Homo sapiens: one gene and its partners. The protein of the gene in region 6 purifies or fractionates together with the protein of the main gene of each other region. This does not show direct contact. Each region holds a gene or a part of one and is shown on either strand. Other genes may lie near its edges.

The links.
Region 1: the proteins of SKAP1 (region 6) and TTF2 purify together in Homo sapiens (affinity purification with mass spectrometry; 3 studies listed by BioGRID and IntAct, with this or other methods). This does not show direct contact.
Region 2: the proteins of SKAP1 (region 6) and NEK1 purify together in Homo sapiens (affinity purification with mass spectrometry; 3 studies listed by BioGRID and IntAct, with this or other methods). This does not show direct contact.
Region 3: the proteins of SKAP1 (region 6) and NPHP4 purify together in Homo sapiens (affinity purification with mass spectrometry; 3 studies listed by BioGRID and IntAct, with this or other methods). This does not show direct contact.
Region 4: the proteins of SKAP1 (region 6) and PAX3 purify together in Homo sapiens (affinity purification with mass spectrometry; 3 studies listed by BioGRID and IntAct, with this or other methods). This does not show direct contact.
Region 5: the proteins of SKAP1 (region 6) and SUGCT purify together in Homo sapiens (affinity purification with mass spectrometry; 3 studies listed by BioGRID and IntAct, with this or other methods). This does not show direct contact.
Region 7: the proteins of SKAP1 (region 6) and PLEKHH3 purify together in Homo sapiens (affinity purification with mass spectrometry; 3 studies listed by BioGRID and IntAct, with this or other methods). This does not show direct contact.

What each region holds. Positions count from the first base shown.
Region 1 is NC_000001.11:117,066,712-117,070,759, reverse strand, and holds part of TTF2 (transcription termination factor 2), read right to left. Parts: intron 1-4,048. UniProt on the Homo sapiens protein: DsDNA-dependent ATPase which acts as a transcription termination factor by coupling ATP hydrolysis with removal of RNA polymerase II from the DNA template. May contribute to mitotic transcription repression. May also be involved in pre-mRNA splicing.
Region 2 is NC_000004.12:169,399,226-169,403,273, reverse strand, and holds part of NEK1 (serine/threonine-protein kinase Nek1), read left to right. Parts: intron 1-1,413; coding exon 1,414-1,622; intron 1,623-2,622; coding exon 2,623-2,753; intron 2,754-2,916; coding exon 2,917-3,049; intron 3,050-4,048. UniProt on the Homo sapiens protein: Phosphorylates serines and threonines, but also appears to possess tyrosine kinase activity. Involved in DNA damage checkpoint control and for proper DNA damage repair.
Region 3 is NC_000001.11:5,873,378-5,877,425, forward strand, and holds part of NPHP4 (nephrocystin-4), read right to left. Parts: intron 3,922-4,048; coding exon 3,716-3,921; intron 3,147-3,715; coding exon of another isoform or gene 3,144-3,146; exon of another isoform or gene 1,738-3,143; intron 1,724-1,737; coding exon 1,497-1,723; intron 1,281-1,496; coding exon 1,094-1,280; intron 1-1,093. UniProt on the Homo sapiens protein: Involved in the organization of apical junctions; the function is proposed to implicate a NPHP1-4-8 module. Does not seem to be strictly required for ciliogenesis. Required for building functional cilia.
Region 4 is NC_000002.12:222,229,206-222,233,253, reverse strand, and holds part of PAX3 (paired box protein Pax-3), read left to right. Parts: intron 1-970; coding exon 971-1,176; intron 1,177-4,048. UniProt on the Homo sapiens protein: Transcription factor that may regulate cell proliferation, migration and apoptosis. Involved in neural development and myogenesis. Transcriptional activator of MITF, acting synergistically with SOX10.
Region 5 is NC_000007.14:40,270,799-40,274,846, reverse strand, and holds part of SUGCT (succinyl-CoA:glutarate CoA-transferase), read right to left. Parts: intron 335-4,048; coding exon 191-334; intron 1-190. UniProt on the Homo sapiens protein: Coenzyme A (CoA) transferase that reversibly catalyzes the transfer of a CoA moiety from a dicarboxyl-CoA to a dicarboxylate in a metabolite recycling process.
Region 6 is NC_000017.11:48,185,500-48,189,547, forward strand, and holds part of SKAP1 (src kinase-associated phosphoprotein 1), read right to left. Parts: intron 4,002-4,048; coding exon 3,924-4,001; intron 2,428-3,923; coding exon 2,344-2,427; intron 1-2,343. UniProt on the Homo sapiens protein: Positively regulates T-cell receptor signaling by enhancing the MAP kinase pathway. Required for optimal conjugation between T-cells and antigen-presenting cells by promoting the clustering of integrin ITGAL on the surface of T-cells.
Region 7 is NC_000017.11:42,673,818-42,678,641, forward strand, and holds the start of PLEKHH3 (pleckstrin homology domain-containing family H member 3 isoform 1 precursor), read right to left. Parts: upstream 3,178-4,824; 5' UTR 2,747-3,177; coding exon 2,585-2,746; intron 2,573-2,584; exon of another isoform or gene 2,408-2,572; coding exon of another isoform or gene 2,114-2,407; exon of another isoform or gene 2,084-2,113; intron 1,059-2,083; coding exon of another isoform or gene 924-1,058; intron 593-923; coding exon 537-592; intron 197-536; coding exon 117-196; intron 18-116; coding exon 1-17.

The DNA of each region.
Region 1 (4,048 bases), on a different chromosome or scaffold from region 6:
CAATTTTTAAAATCTTACTGGTTTCTTTAATTTTTCTCATTGCAATAGGATATTATATTAAACATATGTAATACAATTTCTGAAATGCTTTGAATGCATAAAATTCAAAGTAACAGCTGCCATCAGTGGGTGCTACTACTTACAGAAATAAATCAAGAACAAACTCCTGCTGTTGTTTAAAGCATATCAAGTACTTGAAATCTTTACTGAAAGAATATTTCATAAGTACAGTCCCGTGCTGCATGATGATGTTTCAGTCAACAGTGGATGGCACATACAACTGTGGTCCCATGAGATAATACTGTATTTTTACTGTACATTTTCTTTGTTTAGATATACAAATACTTAGCACTGTGTTACAAATGCCTGCAGTATTCAGTAAAGTAACACACTGTACAGTTCTGTAACCTAGGTATGTATTAGGCTATACCAAGTAGGTTTGTGTAAGTTCACACAGTGACGTTCACACAAAAATGAAATCTCCTAATGACGCATTTCTCAGAATATGCCCCCATTGTTAAATGACTCATGACTGTAGTGTCTACTTTAAAACTCATGCCATGTAGACTTTCAGGAGAAGGGCAAGATTTGCAGAACTAAGGAAAGAAACACACTGAACATCTGCTATGTGCTAGGCACAGTGCTAAAAATGCTTTCCCTTACATTTTTAATTAAAATCAATCTGGATGAGCTTTTCTGATTTTAGGATAATAAGTTTGTTTGTTACGTTTTATTATATTGTAAATCAACAAAGAATGCAGTGGAAATATATTTTCGCAGAGAAAGCAAATATCAATTCCACTATAAGAAAAGCATTAATTTCTGCAGTATGTTTATTAATTGTTTTCCAGGACAGAGGTTATAGGCAATAACGATGAAGGGACCAGCTAGAAGAAGCCAGACCTCTTCAATCCTGACTTCTTCACCAAAACACAAATCCTCCCATTTTCCTAAAGGTAATGTCCAACTCAACATCACACTGCCAAGTGCATTCACTTTAGCAAGGCTACAGTTCTCTCAGGCTCCAGAACTATTCTCCCTTGGTTCAAATCCCAGCCCTACCACCTAATTAGTTCTGAAACATCAGACACCTTAATTGACTGCCCCCTGTGGCAGTTTCCTGTTCTGTAAAATGGCAAAATGATATAGTCCATACCTCATACGGTCATGATGAAGACAAAATACAATCAGAGCAAAGCCTGATACATACCAAGGTCTTAAAAGACAACAGCAATGCCAAGCTCACACTGGCTGATCACTCTGCTTATTCCTACATCCACACTTCTGCTGAAGCTGTTCTGCCTCAACACTTCCTTGTCCTTTCCTCCATCAAAATTGTCAAGGTCATTCAAGGACAACTTCAAGTCTCAACTCCTCTACTTTCTCTGTAACCTTCCTAGCCCTGAACTGTATGTCTTAGAGTCACAGAACCATCTCGCATCTGAACGTCTTCAATTTAGCGCTCTAATGTGCAGAGGAGACTGCACCCCAATCTCAGTACATCTAACTCTTATTCCAGCTGTGTCAAAGGCTCCTTAGGGATTATGAGTTCACATCTTTACATGGTCCAGCTCTGGAAAAACATAAAGCCGAATGTCTACCTCATTCTTTTACACGAACTTTCAAGATGGAAAAAAATGTAAAAGTAAAAAACAAAATTGTAAATGTTCTAGGAAAAAAAACAGATATGAATATTCTTGTAGTCCTAAAGTGAAGAAGGCTTTTCTAAGCCTGGGATAAAACTCTGAAGCTGAGAAATAAAGAATTTAGTAATTTTTAAAAGTTTACACTACCATATGATGAAAATACCATAAGCAAAATTGTAAGACAAAAAGCAAACTGGGAAAACGTAACTACCACACATATCACAAAGGGTTACTATACTTTATACAAAGGGATTGCTCGCACTGCACAGTGCAGTGCATGGTACTGTACACCGCCTCACAAGTATGGCTTTATTCAGTGGTCCTTCACAGCTGGTGGGGCCTGAGGTTCTGGCTGGGTCTGGCGCATGCCTGGTTGCCTCTCTATCACCATCCTGCTCACTATACTAGGGCTAGATAATCTGCAGGTCAATTTCACCCAATAGCCAACAACACGAGGAGTTTTCTAGACATGTGAAGTTTCAAGGGTTATTAAAAGTAAAATATTTTGAACATCTACCACAACCAATTAATTTTTTTTTGGAGGTGAATATTTTTCTTTTTTTTTTTTTTATTACACTTTAAGTTCTAGGGTACATGTGCACAATGTGCAGGTTTGTTACACATGTATGCATGTGCCATGTTGGTGTGTTGCGCCCATTAACTCGTCATTTACATTAAGTATATCTCCTAATGCTATCCCTCCCCTCTCCCCCAACCCCACAACAGGCCCCAGTATGTGATGTTCCACGCCCTATGTCCAAGTGTTCTCATGGTTAAGCTCCCACCTATGAGTAAGAACATGCGGTGTTTGGTTTTCTGTCCTTGTGATAGTTTGCTCAGAAGGATACCACAACCAATTATTTAAAGAACTAAAACTTGTTATACCCACGTCTAAGCAAAGAAATATTTCCATTTATTTTGACCCTGTATCCTTGAGTGAAAGTTCTGTGAGAAACAGAGAGAAAGGAAAATATGAACTCAGGAGCTCAGTGACAATGCCCAAAATTTGTATACCAGGGTGTACCACATCGTTCATGTCAAGGCAAGATTTCTTCCCCCTGGTTCTACTGAGATTATCAGTTTTCTTTACTGCCTGTACACAGAGGGCCATGGCCGAATGGCTAGTCAAATGCTGGTCAGTGGTGCCATCTGGTGTTTCAGTTAGAGATCTGCACACAAATGCAGCTACACTGCAAGAGATGAAAAATGGGCATCTTCGCCTCAGTTTACACCTCCCTTCTATTACTCTGTTGCACCTGTCTCCTGACTACATTCAGCCAAACATAATAGTATTAATTAGAGGATGTAAAATATTTAAGTTATTAAAAAGAAAACCCAGAGTATGTGAGGGAAAGGCTGTACTCTCATAGGTCACTCTCCAGGGGTTCTGGCTGAACACCCTTAATGTTCACTAAGGAAGCCATCATCCATATATAGACTTATCTATTTCTGTTTAAATTCCCAGTCTATGCTACCTATCAGAGTACCTGGTTTTCTGTTGTTATTGTTTTTTAATGTGTTGTGTGTTAAGAACTGCCTTTTACTTTTATTTGTCCTAAGACAACTTTTTTTTTTTTTTTTTTTTTTTTGAGACTGAGTCTTGCTCTGTCATCCAGGTTGGAGTGTAATGATGTGATCTTGGCTCACTGCAACCTCCGCTTCCCCGGCTCAAAGTGATTCTCCTGCCTACTGAGTAGCTGGGATTACAGGCACACGCCACCATGCCCGGCTATTTTTTGTATTTTTAGTAGAGAGAGTTTCACCATGATGGCCAGGCTGGTCTTGAACTCCTGGCCTCAAGTGATCCGCCGGCCTTGGCCTCCCAAAATGCTGAGATTACAGGTGTGAACCACCATGCCTGGCCCTAAGACAAGCTTTTTAAAGCTCCAGTAAGTACTTCCTAGTAATAGTGCTCTGAATTTAGGCTAAGAGAAATACATGTAACATACTTTTTTGTTCTATTTTAAAATAATAAACCCTTCTCAGTCTTATCCATCTAGTACAAAGAACGTTAACAGCAAGTTCTCAAAATTCTGACCTCAGTCAGGCCTTTCTTCAGAGCTGCACACTCATTTTTCTAGCTGGTTTCACATGAAAATAAGACACAATTTGGCCAGGTGAGGTGGCTCATGCCTGTAATCCCAGTACTCTGGGAGGCTGAGGCAGGCAGACCACTTGAGGCTAGGAGTTTGAGACCAGCCTGGCCAACATGGCAAAAGCCCATGTCTACTAAAAATACAAAAATTAGCTGGGCGTCGTGACACACACCTGTAATCCCAGCTACTCGGGAGGCTGAGACACGAGAATCACCTGAACCTGGGAGGCAGAGGTCGCAGTGAGCTGAGATTGTGCCACTGTACTCCAGCCTGGTTGACAGAGCAAGACTCTGTCTTTTAAAAAAA
Region 2 (4,048 bases), on a different chromosome or scaffold from region 6:
GTAATTATATATTAAGTTAAATGCTACTAGTAGGATGATTCAAGAGATTAGACACTATTTTCTCATTCTAATTAGATGCTTTGCTTTTCTATAGCTCCTACAAGTCAAATTGTAGGCGTTTGTACATATAAGTACAAAATAAAGATATTTCTACATAAAAAGATTATTTACTCTATTAATGGAAATTATATTGACAGTCTTACACAATAGTGTTTATATTTTAGTTCTTCAGTAAATATTTGATTGGAGTCTAAACTTTTAGAAAGGCCTTAATTAGCCCTTGTGTCCTGTTAAGCATTGCCTTCCTGATAGATGAAATCCCGGCTTAGGTACATAATCTCTTTTAGAAGTCTTCAGACATCTAAAACATCAGTTAACTCCTTTAGTCTACAAACTTTTCCATTTACATTCCATGTTAGGATAAAGAAGCAAATCATAAGAGGAAAAAAATTTTTCTGAGTATGTTTCTCAGATATTACAGAAGTGGTCAAAGACTAGATTTCAGTGCTCTGTCATTTACTGACTATGTGGCCTTGACCAAGTCATTTAAACATTTTGGTTCATAGTTTTCATGTCTCTAAAGTGATTTTTTGTGGATAAAATTTGAGTAGTAGGATAAAAATGTTTAAAAAACAAAAGTTCTATATAAATGTAAGGTATTATTTGTATAAGTTATTTCATTCCAGCATCTATAATCCCATGAAAATAGAATGAATATTCTTACCAATACTTTGGAAACAAAATTCTCCAGTGAAGAATTATGATGGTTGGTATAGGCTAGTTACACAGAAAATCTATTATGTATTTTAGAACATTTTTAAGAATAAGCATCTAAAGATAAGATTTCTGGTGACCATTTTATTCACTGGGTCATCCTATTAACATGAATATAAAATTTCCTAAGTATTTCTATTTCTAAAAGTTCAAATGCCCAATGGGCATGTATATGGAAAGCCTTTTGTATAGTGTCTAGCTATTAGCCACATGGATATTTTGAAAATTACAAAATTCCATAAAAGAGAAAATAATTTACTATTATTTGTTTTAGAAAAACTTCTATAGTCTGGCCTGTTAAAATATCAAAACATTGTTTCAGAATTTAAGCAATGAGTAACATCGATAGTTATGTGATTCTCTTTGGCAAGTTGGGATCATTTTAAACAAATCATCTTCTGGCTTATATATTCCAGAATATGTGTTGTGTGATATATTTATCAGTTGTATTCATCCTCAATTTACCGGTGAAAAACAATGTAGGCTTTTTCCAGATTTTTTGTTATCTACTATTAGGATTTTTTAAGAAGTGCCTACGTATTGAGTAGAAGTAAAATTTCAGTATGAGGTAGTTTTAGTTGTTTAACTTGGTAAATTTCAGTATGTTTGAAACTTTTAGTTATACTTTTTAAATTTCAGTGTGTTTGAAGAAACTGACACAGATTTACAAGAGCTGCAGGCCTCGATGGAACAGTTACTTAGGGAACAACCTGGTGAAGAATACAGTGAAGAAGAAGAGTCAGTCTTGAAGAACAGTGATGTGGAGCCAACTGCAAATGGGACAGATGTGGCAGATGAAGATGACAATCCCAGCAGTGAAAGTGCCCTGAACGAAGAATGGCACTCAGGTGCATGATCAGAGTTTTGGACCTTTTTCTTTTTCAGTTTACAAATATTTCAAGTAGAGTGTATTTTTCTAATCTCTGCTGTGAACCATTTCCAACTTTAAATACAACTGAAGCATGCCTCTGGGTCTCTCCCCTTTTTTCATTCTTTTTCTTTTCATACAAATGTGTGATTTTCCATTTTTTATTAAAGTTTTTATTTCTTTCCTATTATGTCAATGCTTTTTTGAAGCATTTTTATTCTAATCTCCATTTATTGACTGATTTTTCCAGTAATAAAGATAATAACATTGTTTTCTTGGCATTCTATATTTTAGAAAGAGCTTCTGCATATATTAACCAGCAGAGTTAACACTGAAAGCAGTTTTTAAAGTACTAAAAACTCTTTTCGTAAATTTGTAAACTTTCTCTTTCATAATATTACCCCTAAGATGCATAGAAAGTGTGTCTGTTTCAATAACTATATGATATTAATTTAGGAAGAAAAGCTAATGTGAAAAGACTAAGTAATTTTTTTCAAAGTATGTCGAGCACGTACATGACAAAACATATTGGCCATTTATACTTTCTAGGTGCTTTCCTGAAATGTAATGATGTATGTCTTAGGTTGTCTACCTTTTGCAGGCTTTTCCATGGTGTTTCCCGTGTTTATTACCAACTTTTGAAAATACTAGTTAGGGTTAGCTGCTTCAAAGCAAAACATGGAGGTGTGCTTTTTCCACTTTTTTTTTTTTATTTAAGTAACATCTCTAGGAGTGTTTTGATTCCAACCTGATTTATTTTTTATATCTATACATGAAAAGTAACATTCTTGTTTAGACAGATTTATACATTTTTTTTGCCAAATAAAGGACAAATATTAAAATGACAAAAACTGTTTATAATGAAAGTAGAAGTAGTCTATTTCAATGGCATTATTCATTTGTCATAGAATTTTAGTCTATTAGGGTATGAGTTATTCAGTCTTTTTAAATCAAATCTCTATTTTAATTTTGTTTTTTAGATAACAGTGATGGTGAAATTGCTAGTGAATGTGAATGCGATAGTGTCTTTAACCATTTAGAGGAACTGAGACTTCATCTGGAGCAGGAAATGGGCTTTGAAAAATTCTTTGAGGTTTATGAGAAAATAAAGGTAAGTGAAAAGTCAATTAAAACACTTAAAATGTGCTATGTTTGAAGGTTGAAGAAATGTTGATAATCTGTATTGGTCATTAGATTTATTATAAATAAAAAGTGAAGTCTGCAATTACAGAAAGTTATTCAAATATTAATTTATATTTGGGAATTTGGTATAGGCTATTCATGAAGATGAAGATGAAAATATTGAAATTTGTTCAAAAATAGTTCAAAATATTTTGGGAAATGAACATCAGCATCTTTATGCCAAGATTCTTCATTTAGTCATGGCAGATGGAGCCTACCAAGAAGGTAAGATTTCCTCACATGTCTGTATAATTTTCAGTAAATGTGAGAAAAACAAGATGATACATGTATATGAATCAGCTTACATCACATCCATTTTGTGAAATCTACTTGGGAACTATATAACTTTTAAGCAATAATAAAATTAACTTTGTCATGTACTTTTACTGATCTGTCATATACTTTTACTGACTTAAGTCCTTTAAGTCCATATTTTTAATTTAATTTACAAGTAACCTTTGAATGAGGTTTTTAAAAATCTTACTAGATAGATTTTTGGACAGCTCTAGCAATTAGAATAATCCTAGCCGGGTGCCGTGGTTTATGCTTGTGATTCCAGCTACTTGGGAGGCTTAAGTGGGAGGATGGCTTGAGGCCAGGAGTTTGAGACCAGCCTGGACAACATAGTGAAACCCTATCTCTACACACAAAAAAATTTTTAATTAGCTAGGCATAGTGGTGGGCACCTCTAGTCCCAGCTACTCAGGGGACTGAGGTGGGAGGATTGCTTGAGCCCAGGAGTTTGAAGCTGCAGTGAGCTGTGATTGTGCTACTGCACTCAGCCTTGGTGACAAAGCCAGACCCTGTCTCAAAAAAGTAAATAAATAAAAATAAAGAAGATTATAACTTAGAATAATTCATTTTTTTTTGTTTTTTTTGAGACAGAGTCTTATTGCCCAGGCTGGAGTGCAGTGTCGTGATCTCGGCTCATTGCAACCTCCACCCCCTGGGCTCAAGTGATTCTCCTGCCTCAGCCTCCCAAATAGCTGGGATTATAGGCGTGCGCCACCACACCTGACTACTTTTTGTATTTTTAGTAGAGACAGGGTTTCACCATGTTGGCCAGGCTGGTCTTGAACTCCTGATCTCAGATGATCCACACACCTCAGCCTCCCAAAGTGCTGGGATTACAAATGTGAGCCACTGCGCCTGGCCCTAGAATAGTTCTTATCAAGGATGTGGTATTAAACGTTTTTTGTGTGTGTGAGATGGAGTCTTGCTCTG
Region 3 (4,048 bases), on a different chromosome or scaffold from region 6:
ATTAGGCGACCAGCACCTGTGCTTAGAGACACCACTGCCACCCAGCTGGGAGCCACCAGCCTCCTCTCACACTGACTCTCCAGGCAGCAACCATCACCAACCGGCCTCACTGTGCCAGAGAAGGCTGAGGCTGCCAGGAACAAAGGGAACAGCAGATCCCAGGTGGAAACCCGGCTCTGCCTGAAGCCAAAGGCCTGAGGTCCCACCTGCAGTCCTCACAGCCCATCCCAAGAGCCAGCATGGCATCCTGTGAGTGAGCCTCTAGGGACATCTCAAGTCCACCTTAAGCGATGACCACCACCCTAGAGAGCTGACCCCAAAAGGTCAAAAGCTGAAACACACACTCCACACCCCATGCCGGCCTCACGCACCCGGGCATGACACACCCCCTGCAGGCACACCTCACACACCACCCCCTGCACACAAGTGCACACCTGCACACACACCTCACATACTCCCTGCACACACACAACTGCATGTCTGCACACACCTCACACACTCCCTGCACATCTCACAGACCCCTACACGCACAACTCCTGCACGCGTGCCTCACACACACCCTGCATACATGCCTCCTGCACACACACCTCACATATCGCCCCTGCACACACACCTCACATACATCCTGCACACATACCTCTTGCACATATACCTGCTGCACGCACGCTCCCTGCACACATGCTCCCTGCACGCATGCTCCCCGCACACATGCCTGCAAAGCTGCATCTTGCATAGAGCAGACAGTGCTGCAGTCGGAAGGGACCAAACAACATTAACTGGAAAGAAGATGCTAGAAAACGTCAATCCATTAGATTCACTGGGCTTTAAGAAGCCCTTCCAACCAACTTAGTAAAGAAAATTAGGAGGAGATGGTCCAGCTCGACACCCATCAGGCTGGAAAAGAGAAGGGGCTGGTTGCCACTTGCAGTGTACATGCCAGGGCTCTTGTTGAGCACCAAGGGGAGTGGGCGGCAGCCCCAAGGCTAGTCTGTCTGCACAGGTAAGGGAGGGACACTGGTGGAGACTGGAAGCATTCTCAATTTCCCACCGTCATCAGCCAAATGCAACTTCCCTGTGTGCCTGACACCCGCACCTGCACCATGGCCAGCTGCCCTGCAGAGAAGCTCTGGAACTTGAAGGGGACGTGGGCGGTCTCGTGGGGGCGCAGGTAGAGCTGGGGGGCCAGGCTGCCACGCAGGTGGAACATGTCCTCCTCCACCGGTGTGTGCAGGCCAGCAGCACCCTTGAAGTCCCTCCACTCCTGACTGTCCACGATGACGCTGGGGGAGGCAGTGTCCAGGCGTCAGGGCAGTTCTTCCCAGGAGGACCCACAGGAGGCTGCGGTCCCACCCACCGAGAGCGGTGCTCAGAGGAGTGGGAGAGAGAAGTCAAATCGCCCCGGCTCTCGGGCAGAATTCGAGCCAGCTCAGCAGGGGTGCCGGCTGCACCCGACACAGATCTGGGCTGGGGCAGGACGGGCACCACTGAGACCTCACCTGAGCTCGGGGTTGTCGATCTCCACAGTCACCGTGTGCTGTGTGTTGTGGGGGTTCTTAAGCACAAACTCAAAGAACTCGGCGACCCCCAGCGTGGCGTGGAGCGTGTGCTCCGTGGTGATGGCCAGGCTCAGCAGGCTGGCGATGCTCTCGGCCTTCGTGCGTTCCCGGTAGGCGGCGATGACCTGTAGGTCCCGCAAGTGCTGTGTGCGGACGCTCTGCTGCGCCTGCAGACAAGAGGACATGGGTGGACAGGGTCCCAGGCACACTCTCCTCCACAAGGGGCTATTGCTGGCTGCCCACCACCCGCGATCTCAGAAGAGGACATTTCTCCACAAGCATCGCCACCACCACCCCCTTCCTTGACCATGTGGTCTGGGTGGAACTGGCCGGCCCCGCCCAGGCATGGATCTCAGGCAGTGCTGGACAGAGATCTGCTGGCTGTGTCCCTGACACGGAGGTCCACACAGCATCCCTGCCTATTCCTGAGAGACTCTTCACAGACACGAGTCTGGCCCCCCGCACGGTGGAGAATCAGAAGTTTCAAACAAGAGAAAAGAATGGCCTCAAAACTATGGTGACAGGCCTCACCAGCCAGGTCCCCAACACAACTTTGGGAGCCCTGCCTGGGCCCAGCGTCCACAGGAGAGGACATGCCCCCGGCCTGCTGAGTCTCGGTCACACCGGGTCAGAGTCCAGGCAAGCAGCACGCTGCCTCAGCAAGGCTCAGCCACCCCCTTGCTCTGATGCCGCAGGGACTCAAGGGGCTTGGCCAGCACACATGGGTTCTACAGGTTGGAGACTGGCCTGTTTTTCCTGTGGGACTTACAAGAAAAAGTAAGGCCCACTAGAGGCTGCCTTGCAAGATCTCAGGCCTGGAAGGGGCCACCCCCATGCCGGGGAGTCAGCCAGCCTGCAGCTACTCCAAGAAGCCGCTGCGGCCGGGCGCTGGGAACCTTCTGTCTAACACAGAGGAGGCTGAGGCGTCAGAGAGATGGGCTGACTTCAGTGCTTTCAGGATTTAACTCAAAAGGTGAGGACAAAATTTGATTTCTGGCTTAAATGACTTTGGACATTCACTTTCCAACATCCAAGGCTCTGGCTGTTCCTTTGCAGGGGGATTGGAGCTGGCCTTTCACACTTGGGGCCTCCATCAGAATTTCATCCTCAGAGCTTTTCAGGAGTGGAACCTCTGACAGGCTGTGCTGGACGATGGGGCCAGACATGAGTTAGGATGAGAAACAGGGATAGGGCTGAGAGTGGCTCCTCAATTCCAAGCTTATGCTGACAGAGCTAAGGTTATCCAGGCTAGGGGCCTCCAGAGGCCACAGCTTCAAGCCCTGCCAGCTGGGAGGGAGGGAGGAAGGGAGGGAGGGAGGTGGGGTGGGTGTCCTGAGGCCTGGGAGGAGGCCCCAGTCATGCCCTGGCCCTGCCCTGGCCTCCCTCTAGTCCCTCCCTCCTCCCTGACCACTGAGCCCACCAGTCCTGTGGGATCAGGCCAGGCCTCCTCACCCCGTGTCTTCTCACCATGCCTCTTCCTCGCCCCATCAGACTGAACTGAGCCTAGGGAGGGACCGAGGCGTCTGCATCCACCTTTGAGCACCAACGCCTTGCTGGCAGGGAGGCTGAGTGGCAGCCCTGCTGAGTTTACTGTCAGGAAAAGGGCCACCTCTGTTCAGACCCCGGCCTACCTACATGCAAGGGGGAATCTCAGGAGATCTTTCTCAAGGCCCCTGTGGTTCCCGACTTCTATGAACCCAGGAGGTACAACCATTCTCACCTCCCATTTCTTAGTAGCAAAATATTAAAAGTTCTATTTAGATTTTCAGCCAAAAAGGGGAATTTTTCTAGCCAGAATGATTACATTGACAACCCAGGATATGTCAGTTGTTCACAGCTCTGGTCCCCAGACCTGGGAGAGCCTCAGAATCACCTGCAAAGCTTTCTTCAAACCCAGGCTCCAGGGGTCCTGCCCACACCAATCAGTATCAGAATCTCCAGGGGTGACGCCCAAGAACTGGCTTTTATTAAAAGCTCTCCAGATAATTCTCACTTAAAGATTTCCCCCGGTGGCTGAAAAAGTCCGATTTTCTTATATTCTGTCCCCAGGATTTGGGAGGAAGGTAAGAGAGAATCATGTGGGAGGCAGGGAAAGGATGTGCACAGTGACTCAGTCTGCATGGAGATCCCAGGACAGTGACAGCTGAACAAACCCTTACCAACACGCTCGTCCCGCGCCGGCCCAAGTCTCCCCCGGCCTCCTGCAGGCGCACAGACCTCATCCGCTCCAGCTTACGCCTGCGGGTGGCATCCGACTCGCGGCTGACGTCCTGGGGCCCCTTGCCCTGCCGGGCATGGGTCAGTAGCATGGCAGCCAGCTCACTGTCCACGTCCGCCAGCTTCTGTGCTTGCACCACGTGTTTTCCTGCGAAAGGGTCAGAGCGCGAGTCAGGTAGACGTGCAGTGTCTGCCTTCCAGGAGCAGACACCAGGGCAGGCCTCCCAGGACCACCTATATAGGGAGGGAGCTCAAGAGTGCGGCTCATGCTTTTT
Region 4 (4,048 bases), on a different chromosome or scaffold from region 6:
TTAGGCCACCACACAGTGGCTTCAGGGACATTTTTGTCTTATGCAGTTGCTCAGGGCCACACACTCAGAAGGCCCTGGGATTGGGTTAATGATCTGTTGTTGCCTTCTTGAAACTCATAATATTTTTTTACAAAAGGGATCATACTTTTTTTTTTTTTTTTTTTTTTTTTTTTTGCATTGGCTTTCTTAAATAAAGCAGCTGTCCTGGACAGATGCCCACTCAGCAGAGACCCAGACTCTAGTTAGGGACAGTTCACAAGACAATGCCTGCCTGCTTCTTCTCAGGTCAGTTCTAGAGATTTACATTTTAATAGTACATACATTTTCTTTAAAGCATTTCCCCATATCTGGTGATGAGATACTGATTTAAATATAATTTTTTATAAGAGCAGTAGTCTATAAATATATAGGAATCTGGGAATAGTTAACTGTTACTCGCTTCTTAGGTACTAAGTCAAGTTTGGAATATTTTTAAAAATCACATTTAACAGATTTCATAATGTAAATGTTGGTGAAAATTTATCAGAAACAAAACTCAATGTGATCCATTCATTAGACACGAAGGAAGCACCCATTAAGTAGTAAGCATAGGGCCATACAAATGGAATAAGGCCTGTCCCTGTTTTCTAAGAGCTCATAATTGGCCTAGAATGACAGATGCTATGAGCAATTATTTCTGCCTAGGGGGCAGAAAGATAGAGTAGGAGAAGAGATTAAATATTATTTAATGATGCAGGACTGCATGGGGGCGGGGTGCTTGGTGTCCATGGAAGACATTGGGAATGCACTGTAGACCAGGATTTGAATTATTACGGATTGGTTAGACTTGTTTTTTGATCCACATTTATTTTACTTTAGGTATAGGGATCACTGTAATGGTGTCTTGCAGTCGGAGAGAGAACTTGGATTCAATCTCAGTTTTATTTTTTTGATTCACATTTTATGATGTTTTGTTCTTCTGTGCTTTTAGCCTCAGCACCCCAATCAGATGAAGGCTCTGATATTGACTCTGAACCAGATTTACCACTAAAGAGGAAACAGCGCAGAAGCCGAACCACCTTCACAGCAGAACAGCTGGAGGAACTGGAGCGTGCTTTTGAGAGAACTCATTACCCTGACATTTATACTAGGGAGGAACTGGCCCAGAGGGCGAAGCTCACCGAGGCCCGAGTACAGGTACTGTTGCCCAAACCTCCGTGTCCTACTTCAGTCCAGACAGGAAACAAACAAGCATCTTCTCATCTAAAACATATGTCAATCCCCCCCAAAAATGTATTAGGAATGGCCCTTTACTAGGGATGCATATTGTTAGGACTTTGATTATTTACTGACAGAATACAACTATATCATTTACGACACACAGAAGTCCACCACTTCATGTGACTAACTCAACTTTTCAGGAATCCTTATTGTACACCAGCACTATATGGACTTTGGGGGTGATACACAAGTAAGAGCAAATAAATTTTGAGTGGTTACTCTGTCCCAGCCACTATTTTAAGTGCTTCACATGAATTAACCCATTGAATCATTATTAAAATCCTAGGTGGGTACCATGATTGCTACTCTCCATTTACAAATAAGGAAACTGAGACTTGGACTATATAAGTAACTACCCAAGGTGGCATAGCTGCAAAGTGAGTCTAGAGATAATTGGATCCCATACGCTTCATCTCTGTGACCTTTCAATTATGAAAATGTGCAAAGGTGCATAACATGAAATTCCTTCATTTAACGATTTTATAATTAAGAAGCATTTCAAGAAATTATATTACTTAAAGAACATGTTGAATTATCTTTTGAACTCTTAGAGGTGCTCTGAACCTTCTGGAAAGGCTACTTAGATGTAATATGTTTCTATAGAGTATAGAATAATGTTTTCATCATTAATGAAGAACTACTTCCTGGAGCTAGTAAAACAGTGTTTGAAAGATGGCAGATATCGTAGGGTATCCTCGAACTCCTCACCACCCTAGAAGTTAAGTCACCTTGTCTGCAAATATTGTGTGTTATTTCCAGATTCTTAATTTGCAGGCTGGGGACTCAGCAGTGGACTAGTCAGTTGACATGGTCCCTAGATTGATCAACACGTTCATAGATGCAGCTAATTAACTCTCCTATTACAGAATTTTACAGAAATAGCCTCTTCCAGGCTGCAGAGCTCAGTCAGAGAGATTGTTTTCTTCAAACTTCCATATGATCATCATAGTGCTAGGAAAGTCAAGGAATGCTAAGATCAATTAAGACAGTTCTCTGAAGGAGTTGCAATCTAAGAAAGGTAAAAAAATAAACATACAAATAATTTAAAAATAACACAGACATGATAAGTGCAGAAAGAGAAAAAGTGCAATGGGAGTTGAGAAGAGGAAAGGATGAGATTTTTTTTTTTTTTTTTTTTTGAGGTGGAGTCTCACTCTGTCACCCAGGCTGGAGTGCAGTGGTACAACCTCAGCTCACTGCAACCTCTGCCTCCTGGGTTCAAGCGATTCTCCTGACTCAGTCTCCCAAGTAGCTGGGATTACAGGTGCTTGCCACCAGGCCCGGCTCATTTTTGTATTTTTAGTAGAGATGGGGTTTCACCATGTTGGTCAGGCTGGTCTCGAACTCCTGACCTCGTGATCTGGCCGCCTTGGCCTCCCAAAGTGCTGGGATTACAGGTATGAGCCACCATGCCCAACCTTTTTTTAAAAAATTATACTTTAAGTTCTGGGATATATGTGCAGAAGGGGCAGGTTTGTTACATAGGTATAACACGTGCCATGGTGGTTTGCTGCACCCATCAACCCGTCATCTACATTAGGTATTTCTCCTAATGCTATCCCTCCCCTAGCCCCCCACCCCCCAACAGGCCCTGGTGTGTGATTTTCCCCTCCCTGTGTCCATGTGTTCTCATTGTTCAACTCTCACTCATGAGTGAGAACATGCAGTGTTTGGTTTTCTGTTCCTGTGTTAGTTTACTGAGAATGATGGTTTCCAGGTTCATCCATGTCCCTGCAAAGGACATGAACTCAAGGGATGAGATCTTGAAGGAATGAAGAGAGGTACATGAAGAAGGCAGATTTAATTTTTTTTTTTTTTGAGACAGGGTCTCATTCTGTAGCCCAGGTTGGAGTACAGTGGTACAATCACAGCTCACTGAAGCCTACACCTCCTGAGCTCAGGTGATCCTCCCACCTCAGCCTCCCAGATAGTTGGGGCTACAGGTGCATGCCACTATGCCTGGATAATTTTTTGAAGAGATGGGATTTTGCCATGTTGCCCAGGCTCTTCTTGAACTCCCAGGTGCAAGCGATCCACTTGCCTTGGCTTCCCAAAGTGCTGGGATTATAGGCATGAGCCATTGTGCTGGGCCCAGAGGGCAGATTTAAGATGAACTTTCCGGGCTAGATAGATATTCACTGGACCAGGTGCATAAGGAGAGTATATTAGTAATAGGGAATTATATGAGCAGAGGCACAGAGAGGTAGAAGTGGTGGGCTACACGTAAGATAACCTTTCTTTTTCACTCTAGTCATATTGGGAGAATAGTTAGTTTGATTAGAATGTAAGGAGTGGTAGGGTGGTGGAAGAAATAGGGTTTGGTAGGTAGGCTGAGGATATCCTATGGAGGTCTTGGGTTTCAGGCCAGTGAGCTCACATTTGATGTGACAGGGAGTGGGGGCTATGGCATGAGATAGGTAGTGGCAGTGGGAATGGCAAGGAAGAGATGGTGGTGAAGGTATTCAGAGGTAGAATGGACAACCGATTGTGTAATCTAGAAGTGGGGAGGAAGGTGAGTGAAAGGAAGAGTTGTAGATAGACCAAGGTTCACAGAGCTGGTGTTTTAAAGTTGGGAAACCTATTATCATTGGGAAACAGAGTGTTTCTCCCCACCACACAGTGTAGAAATAACCTTTATTAACTAAGTCATAATATTTCAATAGAAAAATATTTTAATACAGTATTGATATAGTAATATTATATAATACTATATAAATATTATATTAACATAACATTAATATTACTATATCAATGTTATGATATTAACATGCATATTAATATAACAGTG
Region 5 (4,048 bases), on a different chromosome or scaffold from region 6:
CTGGGCAACAAGAGCAAAATTCCATCTCAAAAAAGAAAAGAAACAAGTACATCAAAATGAAACAGTTTTCAGTGTTGTTGTGTTGGTTTTTGTATTGTTTTTGTACATGTGACCATAGAATTTGATCTGAAAAGGTATAACCCAGACACAGTTTTTATAACATTATCTGAAATGTTAGTTGGATTGTTACCTGGGATGACAGTAGGTTACAATCAATGAACAGTCCTTTCCCAGTTTTGTATTTTTGTATCAATCCAGCCATAATAGCTCCATATGCATACAGGCCAGTGGCAAGATCAGTCATAGCTACTCCTGGGCGAACTGGATCTCCATTCTGATTTGAAGGTTGGGTTGAGAAAGAAGAAATAATTAAACATTAAAAGAATCATATGATTTCTCAAATCTTCTAATGTGAAATAGAAAAAAGAATTGTCTATTAACTGTGCAGACACATACACACAAGAAAGTTAATAAAATAAATTGCTATTGTGAATATCTGTTGGTAATAGGAAAATATTTATATTTACTATATACTTCTCAGTGCATTTCTCTCCCCAATGCCTACTAACCAAACTAAAAATAAAAGATTTTTTAGAAACCGATCTGATGTTTCAATGTTTTAAATTCCTTCTTGATATATTTTATCTTGTTTATGCTAAAAAAATTAATTGAATTTAAATGAGTTAATTTGTTGGGGAGAAAGAGTTAAAGCAGTGTTTTTCTCCTATTGGGTGAGAGGCTCTCTCACAAAAAAAAAAAAAAAAAAAAAAAAAGAAGGTAAAAAATCTGGTCAAACCTCCTTGTAAGCACACCAATAGCTGGCAAAAATACTAACAGTGTTTGCTTAATAATTTAAAAAAAGACTATTTACCCATAAAAAGCTGTTAGCAGACTGCCCCTGAATTAGGATTACTATGATAAACAAACTGAGAATCTCAAGATTTATGGGACATGGAGCACTGGGCACAGGGCATGAGCTTTGCAACTATCTGGGTATAAAACGGAGATGTTTCACAGCCTGTAACACTCCCTGCTAATAACTCATATATTTCATTAAGGACCTCATCTACTGCTTTGGGCCACAGAGTTTTGTCTATTGCAGTAAGAAAGGATCCGGGGGCCTCTCTCAATGTCCCAGACATGTCTCTGCTTTTTCTGAGCCTTTTGATTGCTTGTATTCTTGAAATTATAAGGAAAGCTTAATATTGATTAACATCTCCACTTCATGTCAGTCTGATTTGACAATCCAATCCTTGGCCCATATGTAAAGATGTTAGAACAGTACTTGACACAAAATAAAAATCACCTATCAAAATTATCAACATTGTTATTAGTCATTGATATATCAGATAGTTTCTACTTGTCACTACCTTTAATTCTGCTAAGCCTTAAATCGCACAGAATACCTAAAAAAACTCACATTTCATACTTCATCTGGCTGATGCAGTGATTCAATTACCTCCTTATTAAGTCTAGCTTCTGTTGAATCATTTTCAGAAGTTAATTTGTCCTTTTTTTGTAGCCCATCATAAACCATGTTAATTGTTTTGCAAAAGTACTGTTTTGCAAAATAATGTTTAAAGCAAGTAACTGAGACGGTATAGTAGCTAAACTTATTTTTCCCTGCTTTTCAATACAATTTCAAGGACGATATTGCCATGAAACTTGGAAATGTCTGGCAGTTTACTATTATTATTGTCAAAAGTTGTAATGTAATGCCTTAAATCAATACACTTAAAATTAAATTTGTCATTAGAATTTAAAATTATTTAATGTCTTAAAAGTGAGAGACAAGTTCAAAGTTACATTGACCCTTGAACAACAAAGTTCTGAACTGCATGGATCCACTTATACGTGGAATTTTTTTTCAATAAAAGTTACACTAAAGGCTGGGCACGGTGGCTCACACCTGTAATCTCAGCACTTTGGGAGGTCAAGGCGAGTAGATCACCTGAAGTCAGGAGTTCAAGACCAGCCTGGCCAACATGGTGAAACCCCGTCTCTACTGAAAATACAAAAATTAGCCAGGTGTGGTGGCACATATATGTAATCCCGGCTACTCAGGAGACTGAGGCAGGAGAACTGCTTGAACCCGGGAGGCGGAGGCTGCAGTGAGCTGAGATCGTGCCACTGCACTCCAGCATGGGTAACAGAGCAAGACTCCATCTCAAAAAAAAAAAAATAATAATAATAATAATAATAATACCATATGATCCAGCAATTCCACAGCTGGGTAGATATCCAAGAAAGAAGAAAATCAATCACGAAGAGATATGTGCACTCCCATGGTTACTGCAGCACTATTGACAACAGCGGAAATATGGAATAAACCCAAGTGTCCATCAAAGGATGAATGGATAAAGAAAATGTGTTCACGCACAGTGGCTCATGCCTATAAATCCCAACACTTTGGAGGCCAAGCAGGAGGATCACTTGAGGCCACGAGTTCAAGAACAGCCTGGGTGACAGAGTAAGACCCTGTCTCTACCAAAAAATACAAAAATTAGCCGGGCATGGTGGCACACACCCCTAGTACCAGCTACTTGGGAGTCTGAGGTGCAAAGATCACTTGAGTGCAGGAGTTCCATCCAGGCTGGAATGAGCTATGATCATGCCACTGCACTCCAATCTAGGCAAAAGACTGAGACCCTGTATATATATATATATATATATATATATATATATATATATATATATATATATATGTCACATTGCAGTTGTTTTTGAAACATCCATATATATATATATATAGAGAGAGAGAGAGAGAGAGAGAGAGAGCGAGACAGAGAGAGAGGAATATTATTCAGCCATAAAAAATTAGCTGGGCAAAGAATAAATTCCTGTCATTTGCAACAATATGGATGTCACTGGAGGACATTATGTTACATGAAAGAAGCCAAGCACAGAAAGACAAATATCACATATTCTGACTCAGATGTGGAAGCTAACAAAGTAGATCTCATGAAGATAGAGAGCAGACTGCTGGTTACCAGAGGCTGGGAAGGGTAGGGGGAGGAGAGATGAAGAGAGGTTGATTAGTGGGTACAAACATACGCTTAGATGGAAGAAATAAGAATTGTTGTTCAGTAGATCAGTACGGTGACTATAGCTAACATCAAAAGGCTGTACATTTCAAAATAGTTAGCAGGGAATAATTGGAATGTTCCTAGAACAGAGAAATGGTAAATATTTAAGGTGATGATGGGTATATCAACAGCCCTGATCTGATTATATTAATGTATGGAATGATCACATGAACCCTGAAAACATGTACACCTATTATGTATCGATTTTTAAAAAGCTAAAAAAAAATGAAACTTCTCAACCTAATAAAGGGCATCTATTAAAAATCATAACCCAGATCACACTTAAAAGTAAAGAACTGAATGTTTTCCCCTAAAATGAAGAACAAGACAAGAGGCCAGGCACGAAGGCTCATTCCTATAATCCCACACTTTGGGAGACTGAAGGGAGGGCCACTTAAGCTCAGGAGTTGGAGCCCAGACTGCACAACATAGTGAGACCCCCGCCTATATATTTTACAAAAGAAAAAAAATTTAACTAATTATTTTTTAAAAGAATGAGACAAGGATGTCCACTCTAACCACTTCAATTCAACATTACACTGGAGGTTTTAGCCAGTGCAGTTAGGGTACAAAAAGAAATAAAATGAATTTAGGTTGCAAAGAAAGAAGTAAAACTATCTCAATTTGCAGATGACCCAGTCTTATATATCAAAAGTCCTAAGGAATCCACTAAAAAACTCTTAGAACTAGTAATCGAGTTAAGCAAGATTGCAAGATAAAAGCCAATATACAAACATCAGTTGTATTCTACACACTAGCAATAAACAAACAAAAAATGAAATAAAGAAAGTAATTCAATTTATAATAGGATAAAAAAGAATAAAATACTTAGAAATAAATTTAACAAAAGAAGTACAAACTTATACTCTTAAAATAATAAAATATTGTTGAAAGAAATTAAGACAAAAATAAACCAAAAGACATCTCACAGTCATGGAGCAGAAGACTTAATATTGTTAATA
Region 6 (4,048 bases):
CTTGTCACTACTTAAAAAAAATGTTAGAAACAGAAAAAGAGGAGGTGACTCTCAAGAATTTTGTATCCTCATTGTGTGGGTCAGGCAGAACACACAGAGAACAGGAACCACAGTGTCTGGGATGCTTTGAGCTCTATATCATGTGAAATGAATTGCTTAATAAATGCCTTTTGATGATGATAATGATGACAAGGATGGCAGTGCGATGCCAATATTAAAAAAGAAAGAAGAAGAAAAAAGACTGTGCTCACCTGGTTGAGCTAAAAGAAATACACAAACACTATTCTTACTAAGAAAATGTCATGGGCACAGTAAGAAATAACTGGCGAGAAGGGAGCCATGGAACAGTGCTTTTTGACACCAGAATCTTTTTTGTTAAAGTATCTCTCCTTGTTCTAACTGGCCACTAAAATGTTTTGTTGTTTCTTTGGTCACCAGATTTTATTTCACCCTAATGGCAAAATGGTCAATAAAAGCTTCCGAGTCTCTTGCTCTTGCTCTCCCTGCTCCTCTCTCACCGTGAGTATGGAAGATTCTGAATGAACAGATGTGACACACCTGGTTTTATATCTAGATATGCCAACCACTTATTTAAATGCAAAATAAATGATGAACATATTTACAGTGAGAAGTGTCATATTAGTTTGAAGTTTTAAAATAAGAAAAGAACAACTGGCTGGATTGAATGCCTATAATTTAGAGGAGAAATTGTGGTTGCTGGGTTGGAGAGTGGGCTGGGGGTTGGAAGGACACAGAGGACTTGTAGCTCAGTTTACAAACTATGCTGTTATCCTTCCCAAACAGGGCTTTAGCCTTTGCCCCTAGATGCGAAATGTTCTGAGGAATCTAGGATGGTGAAAGGTAGGCAAAGGTCTGTGATAACTACTGCAGGCAGTGTGAGACAATTGCTTGGGCAAATCTTAAGGATTTCAAGTCACTTAGCAAAGCTGCAGTTTTTATTTATTTATTTATTTATTTATTTATTTATTTATTTATTTATGGTTGAGACAGAGTCTCGCTCTGTTGCCCAGGGTGGAGTGCAGTGGCGTGATCTCGGCTCACCACAACCTCCACCTCCTGGGTTCAAGCAATTCTCCTGCCTCAGCCTACAGGCACATGCCACCATGCCTGGCTAATTTTTGTATTTTTAGTAGTAGAGACGGGGTTTCACTATGTTGGCCAGGTTGGTCTTGAACTCCTGACCTCATGATCTGCCTGCCTTGGCCTCCCAAAGTGCTGGGATTACAGGCGTGAGCCACTGTGCCTGGCCCAAAGCTGCAGTTCTTTCCACTACCTTAGTGCCACAGGTGCAGGAAGTACAAAGGCAACTGGGTGGGTGTCTGATTATTCCCTATATTGGATATCCAGGCACTGGGAAAGCACTAAGTTTGAGGAAGGAGAAACAGAAAATGATTGCAAGGAAAAAGAAGAGTCTACTCAAACTGTATCGCTGGCCTCTGTACGAAGGTGCACAGTACAAGGAAAGCCCCAAGAAGAATTGATGCTTTTTAAACTTTGTCTCCCTCTTGCGTCTTAGAATTACTCCTGGGGCAGTCCAACTCTGTAGAAGAGTATCCCCTATTCGAAAGTTTGCATTCATCTATAATAATAATTTTTAGCTTGTCTTTATTTGTAATTGCCTCCAATTGTGCTTATATCCTCTATTTCTTTTCATAAACCAATCAATTACATTAAACATGGATGGGAGGTCTTCTAGGGTTAGCTCATGAGTGTTGACTTGATTAAGTCAGTGGTGGCTCATTAAGAAACTATCTCTGGCCCGAGTCAACACTTCACTGCTGCTGTCATCTGGCTGAAGGGCATGCCTTGGGTACAGCAACCATTTGGGTCTCAATATTCCATGGCTATAGGAATGTCCACTGGACTACTTACTTACTAGCAGTCATGAAGATAAAGCAGGGAGCATGCCCTTAGGGGGTTCTATTTCTGGGCCATTGTTTAAGTTCTTTAAGTCTTTCTCAGAATTAATTTATTTCAATTTTTAGCTATGGTATTGATGCCTGTAAAGAGTTTGAAGTTCTTTTTATTTTTTTTAAAAACCAAAACATTCAACTTTGATAATGTGTTGTTAATCATCATAAAAGATAACCATTTGATGTGCTGACCACACTCTTAGTGTTTAAAGGTGAAATAATTTCTAAATTGGGTTCTGCTTTTTCGGTGATGGGCAAGGTATTATTTGTCCATGCCAATTTCTTTCCTAAGCATGTCCCTTTATGGGTGTTAGTTAAGGACTGCTATCTTGGGATCTAAGTGCTTGAGAATTTACGAAGTGTTTGCATCCAGGAGTGAGATGCTGCTGTGTAAATGAAGAACACTTACTCTTCTCATTAGCATAGTAGTAGAAGAGACCTCTGCTGACAACACACCATCGCTTCTGCCACTCCGATCCAAAGAAACTATGATCTAAACAGAACAGCAGTAGGGGACATAAATTCAGGTAACTACCATCATTGAAGAGTCTGTAAAATCCAACAACATACAGTCCAGTGTGTTATTGTTTTATTTCCCAGGTTAATGGACTGTAAAACCCTCCTTTTCACTCCCACAGGTTATCCCATATTGACTCAGGGTCCAGGGGACTAGCTCAGTCAAAGGTCCAAGTTCTAAACAGGGTTGCCTGCTCTGTGCCCCCACAGCTGTCTTTTTATCTAGACTCCTTTATATCTTTCGGGTTCTAATCTCATCCTGTACATTTTCAAACTCTCCATTATATCTTTATGTGTTGCCTTTGACAAAGCAAAATGATTCTCCAGGCCTTGGCCATGAAAGAGCCTTTGTTTTGGTGCTGAGCCAATTTGCCTGTTGAGTGTTAAACCTGAGATGCCAACTCTAGTGGTACCTACTCTAATTAAATGAGTTAAAGGTCAAGAGTTGGGTTTGAAGGCAGAAGTGGTGGCTCACATCTGTAATCCCAGCACTTTGGGAGGCTGAGATGGGAAGTATGCTTAAAGCCAGGAGTTTGAGACCAGCCTGGGCAACAAAGTGAGACCTTGTCTCTATAAAAAAATAATAAAATAGCCAGGCACAGTTGTGTGCACCTGTTGTCTCAGCTCTTTGACAGGCTGAAGTGGGAGCATTGCTTGAGCCCAGGATTGGAGGCTGCAGTGAGCTATGATGGCGCTACTGTATTCCAGCCTTGGTAATAGAGGGAGATCCTATCTTAAAACAAAAAAAGAAAGAAAGAAAAAAAAAAGGCCGGGTGTGGTGGCTCATGCCTGTAATCCCAGTACTTTGGGAGGCTGAGGCGGGCAGATCACTTGAGGCCAGGAATTTAAGACCAGCCTGGCCAACATGATGAAATCCTGTCTCTGCTAAAAATATGAAAAATTAGCTGGGCATGGTGGCACGCACCTGTAGTCCCAGTTACTCAGGAGGCTGAGACAGCAGAATCGCTTGAACCAGGAGGTGGAGGTTGCAGTGTGCCAGGTTCACACCCACTGCACTACAGAGTGAGACTCTGTCTCAAACAACAACAACAACAATAACAAAAACAAAAAACAAAAGAGTTGGGTTTATCTGAAATTTGAAAGTAGACTGCTTCACATATGATACAAAAACTACACAGTGGGAGCACACTGAGAGATGAGGACAAGAACACCATTCATGGATTCAACAAGTTTTATCAAGCACCTGTCACATACCAGGCATTGGGGATACAGAGGTGAGCAGGACATAACCATCCCTATCCTGATGAAGCTTACAGTCTGCTCAAGGCTGGGACATCTCTCTTTAGCCTACACGAAAACACCAGACTCCTTTCCTTTCCTTGCTTTGCTTTTGCCTTGTATCCGCCTAGCACAGTACCGGGCACAGAGAAGGCATCCAATGTGTTAGCCTTCTTTTTCCTCACTTCCCTTCCCTTCCTGGAATGTTCTGAAATCTGTGGGTCTGACCAATACCTTTGCTTTTCTTCTCCAAGTATCCTTGCTTGATTACGTTATCAAGTTCTTGAGCTCCTTTTACGATGTCTTCCATTCCTAAAAGGACCAATGGCAAAATGCTTTATTGAAACCTGGCAAAATTT
Region 7 (4,824 bases), 5.5 Mb from region 6:
CTCCCGGTACAGCCAACCTGGGGGCCGGAGAGGGAGGGAAGGGACATCAGTAGAGACATTAATCCCTAGGGGGTTGGGATTGGGGGCCTCCAGAGTGCACTGAGGGGGGTCTCTACCTTTCACAACGATGTCCGGGTCGTCCTCCGGCAGCCCTTTCTCCGGGATGAGGCTCCAAGTCTCCTCCCAGCTCTGCAGCCTGGGCCAGAGGGGAGGGAAGGTTGGGTCTCCACTCTGCCTCTAGGGGGCTCCTCTGTAGGGGCTCCCCAGACCGCACGGGTGTCTGCTCCCAAGCTGGGCACCCCTCCCCCAGGCTGTGGGAACCGCTGGGCCATTCTGACCTCGAACCAGAAATAGCCCCGACCCCCCTCTTTCTCCCCGCGCCCCCAGCCGGACCGCCCCCCGGGACCCCAGCCAAACCACAGCGTCCGGCATAGGGCCTCTCCCTTATTGCACAACCGCTAGGGGAGACAGAGAGGATGGGGGTCCCGGGAACATGCTGGGGTCGCCAGACTATGGGACGTAGGGGCGTAGCTCACCTGTTGGAGACAGGCCCGCTCCTCACTGGCTGAGTCAGCGTCACTTCCAGGGGACCCTGGGGAGACAGGCGGGGAAGCCCTCAGGGTCAGAGCCCTTCCTGCGCAAGGTTCGTGCCTTCTGCCCTCAGGACAGGGCTGCTCAGGGGATTGAGGAAGGAGGAGTCACAGAGTGGGGTCGTGACTAGGGTGGAGCACGCTGGAGCCCCTGGGCTCGCCCCTCCCGCCAGTCTTAACAGGACAAGCTCTTCAGAACAGCAGGAGCTAAGGAGCCAAGGCTCCTCTCAGTTACCCTTTGAAAATACAATCAGGGGTAGGGTAGGGTGGAAAGAGCACTGGGCAGAGAGTCAGGAGACCTGGGTTCCAATTCCCGCCCCACCACTAACTCACTGTGGAACCTTGGGCAAGTCTCTTCCCGTCTCCGGGCCTTAGTTTCCCCATCTTTGAAACAGGAGAGGTGAGCTCGTTCTGCCAGGCTCCAAGGCACCCTCTCCTCCTCATTTTCCCTTCTTCCACACTGCCTCCCTGGCCAAGGCAGGACAGGTGGTAGGCACAGAGGTGAATGAAGGGCAGAGGGACCCTTTCAGTATAGGGCTTTCTCCAAAAGCGTCTTACATTCTCCCATAGACACTCCTGAGACTCAATGGTGAGCAGAGACCCTGCCCCTTTGCTGGGGCTTAGGAAGGGCGGGCCAGACTGAGGAATGGCACACCCTCTGGAGGCAGGTGTAGTTCAGGGTTTTGCCCTCCCCCTCCCCCTCCTCCTCCCTTCCCCCTGTCCTGGAACTTCAACTGTAGACTGGGGTCTGAGAGAGGCCACAAACCCAACCCGGAGGCCAGTCAGGCGGGAACCGTGCCATCCTCATATTGCTCCCAGACTGCTAGAGCCAAGAGGGGGAGGTGGGGGAGGGGGCCAGGGACACCTGTCCCCAGGCTCAGGGAAGGGGGGAGTTGAGGTGGAGCATGAGGGAGGCAATGGCCTGGTAAAGCCGACCCTGCCCAAGCTGGAAGCTTGGGGACGCCTGGGTCCTGCACCCTTCCTACGTGAACCTCCACCTATTTTCTGGAAGGTCTGAGTGGGGCTGTCAGCCACACCACATGTGGCAGGTACTGACCACCCTCTTAGGCTAACTCCCCTAATCGCAGTGCCCTGCTTCCCTCCCTCCCCCCTCCTCTATATTTATCCACCCTCCGCCTCCGCCAGGTGCTGGCGCCGGCCCCGGCGGCGCAGCCCGCCCCACCCGGGCACCGAGCCACTGGGCCTGCTGGGGACCCCTGCGCGGGGGATGGGAGCCTGACCCGGGCCACAGCACACGGGAGTCTGGCCGCCAGTGTGCAGGAGGGATGGGGGAGGAGACGTCAAGGGATGGAGGTCTCCCACACCAATCGTGCCTCCGTTTCCCCACGGGGAGATTCGACAAAACCAGGCAGCAGCCCAGTGTCCCTCACCATCCATCCCCTCAGGGGTTTCCCAGGAGCCTCACCCGGGAAAGCCGAGAGTTCTGTCCTGAGTGGCAGGGTAATGAGGAGGGGTCCTCAAAGAGCTCCCACCTCCCTCTCCTTGGGGTCCCCGCCACAGACCCCAATCCTGGGATGACTTCTCCCCCTCGTCCAGGTCTCCGCAGCGGGAGCTCTCGCATCTGGCCTCCGCACTTGCGAACTGGGAGCGGAGGGGGACCCAGGCGTTCGAGCCGCCCAGCCGGCCTCGCCACATTCCTCGGCGCTGGCGGAGGCGGAAGGAGACGGGATGGGACGCGGGCCCAGCGGGGAAGGGAGAGGCAGGGCCAGGTCGGGCCACGCGTGACGCCTCCCCTGCCTCAGGGCCCCCAGCAGGTGGATAGCGCCCAGCCTGCAGCGGGAGGCCCACAGGCACATCCCGAGTAGGGCTGCTGCTCCGAGAGCTCCCGGGGGCTTTGGCCCCCAGGCAAAAAACTCTCCCTCATCCCTAGTTCGCCAAGCGCGCAGCGTGTGGCTGGAGGCTGGAGCGGATCAGCGTGACGGCCGGTTACAGCGAGAGTGATTGAGACGAGGCTCCGAACCCCCGGGACTTACCCTCCCGCCGCCCGCTGGACTCGGGGTCCGCAGCTCAAAGGTTTCCTCGTCCTCGTCCTCGTCCCCGTCCCCGCTAAGCTCGCCGTCCCCGTAGTCCCGGTGCAGAAGAGTGAAGCCTCGACGGCAGCAGAGAAGCCACCATAGTCCCCCGGGGAGAGGCATCCGGGCGAGGAGCTGCGGATGGGGGCGCGGGCAGCCGCGGCCGAGCAGTAGGGGGTCGGAGGAACTGGCGGGGCTCCGACCCGAGCAGGGGAAAGATGAGGTGGGAGGAGCAGAAGGGAGAAGAGGACAGGGAGGAGGCAGTGTCCTGGGCTGGGGTGCAAGGGGACGCTAGCCAGACGCTGAGGGGGGCTCAGTGTCTGGGCCCCCGGAGGGGGGAGGGGGAAAAGCGTCCAGGGCCCCGGGAGAGGAGGGAGCAATGTCCGGAGCTGGGAAGTAGTGTCCGTTGGAGTGTCCAGCCCTGTGGGGGGCAGTGTCCGGTGCAGCGTCCGAGGTGGGCAGTTGTCCAAGCTCCAGGGAGGGTCGTGTCCGGTAGGGCGTCCGGTGGCCGGGGCCCGGGCCGCGCGCGCTGCGCTCCCTGCAGCCCCGGGACTGGCGCGCTGGGGGCGCGAGCACAGAGCTGGGACCCCGCCCCCCCGGCCCCCTCCCTCCCGGGGGGCCCCCCCTCTCTCTTCTTTCTCTCCTCCCTTCTTTACTAGGCAGGGTCCAGGTTTCGTCACAGTCTCCTCTGTCCAATCCCTGTGCCTGGCGCCGGGCGCGGCTACCAATCAGACGGCTGAAACCGCGTTGGGTTGCATCATGTGCCCCTGGCTTGGTGACAGCGGGGAGGGGCGGGGAAACAGGGAGGGAGGGGACGAGGCTATGTTAGCCACGCCCCAGTCTCTGAGGTCGGACGCGGGGTGCTAGTGACGTCACGGAAGCCCGCCTTCAGGCTCTTGTTTTAACTCTTGGCTCACCAACCAATTAAAAACCCTGTTGAGGAGTTTTGGCACAGGACAGAGGAAAACCCAACTGCCGCTCTCTGAACCCCTGTCTCGTCTCAGGGTCCCTGAGAAAGGGAAACGCCTTGGCTACTAAGAGGATGTCCAGACCTGCGAGGACACAGCTCTGGAGGTGGCCCTCCACGTCTGGGGAGAAGGAGTCCAGTTTCTCCAGTTTCTCGGTCTGATTCAGCTCTCCCCCACCCTTTTTTTTTTTTCTTCCAGACAGGGTCTCGCTGTCTTGCCCAGGCTGGGGTGCGGTGGAGCCATTATAGCTTACTACAGCCTCGAACTCCTCGGCTCAAGGGATCCTCCCACCTCAGCCTCTCCAGGAGCTGGGACTACAGGCGTACACCACCATGCCTGGCTAATTTTTTAAATTTATTTTTTGTAGAAATGGAGTCTCACTATGTTGCCCAGGCTGGTCTTTAACTCCTGGGCTCAAGCGATCCTCCCAGCTTGGCTTCCCAAAGTGCTGGGATTACAGGTATGAGCCACTGCACTCGGCCTCACCTCCTTTTCGAGGTGAAGGAGTTGAGGCAGGCACTCTGGGAAGGTGCAGACCTAGGCCGGAAATAAAATCGAATATAGAGCTCACAGCTCACCGAACTCAGCTGGGGAGACTGACTTGGATTCTAAGGAATTCTGTGGTCTCCGAATACAGTGGAGGCCTCTTAGGGCTAATATCCTGCGGCTCTGTATAGGAAGGGGTTAACTCAGGCGCTAGGCGGCCGGGGCGGGGCCGCGGCCTCCGCGGGCGCGCGCGCGCGTTGCTGACTCAGCGGCGATTCCAGAGATCTTGGATGGAGGGTTCCAGGTCGGTCCCCAGTGGCTGGCGTGTGGGACCCTTTGAGGATCGGCGCCGTCTCCGGGCCTTCCCTGGATCCTGGCCCCTAGAGGCCGTGGGGGACCCCTTTTCGCCGCTGCTGCGGGAGGCTCTGAGGACTGCTAGCCTGGGCAGGGCTGGGCTGGGCGGGGAGGGGCGGGGAAGGGCGGGACGGGCGGGGCCGTCAGGCCAGCACCTCCCTTGAGACCTCCTCGCCACGCCCCGCCCTTCTCGACCCTAGACTCCAGGCTGGAGCGGTGGGGACAGCTTTGCTGACCGATATTAAACCGCGAGAACTGTCGCACGTGAACACCATCCTGCCCGTTGTGATTGTGTAAAACAAAGACCAGGAATCAATGCGAGCGTGTCTAGGAGGCCATCTCGGCCGTGGCCTCTCTCCACATGAGAGTGGCCTGTACTGAGAGATTACCTAG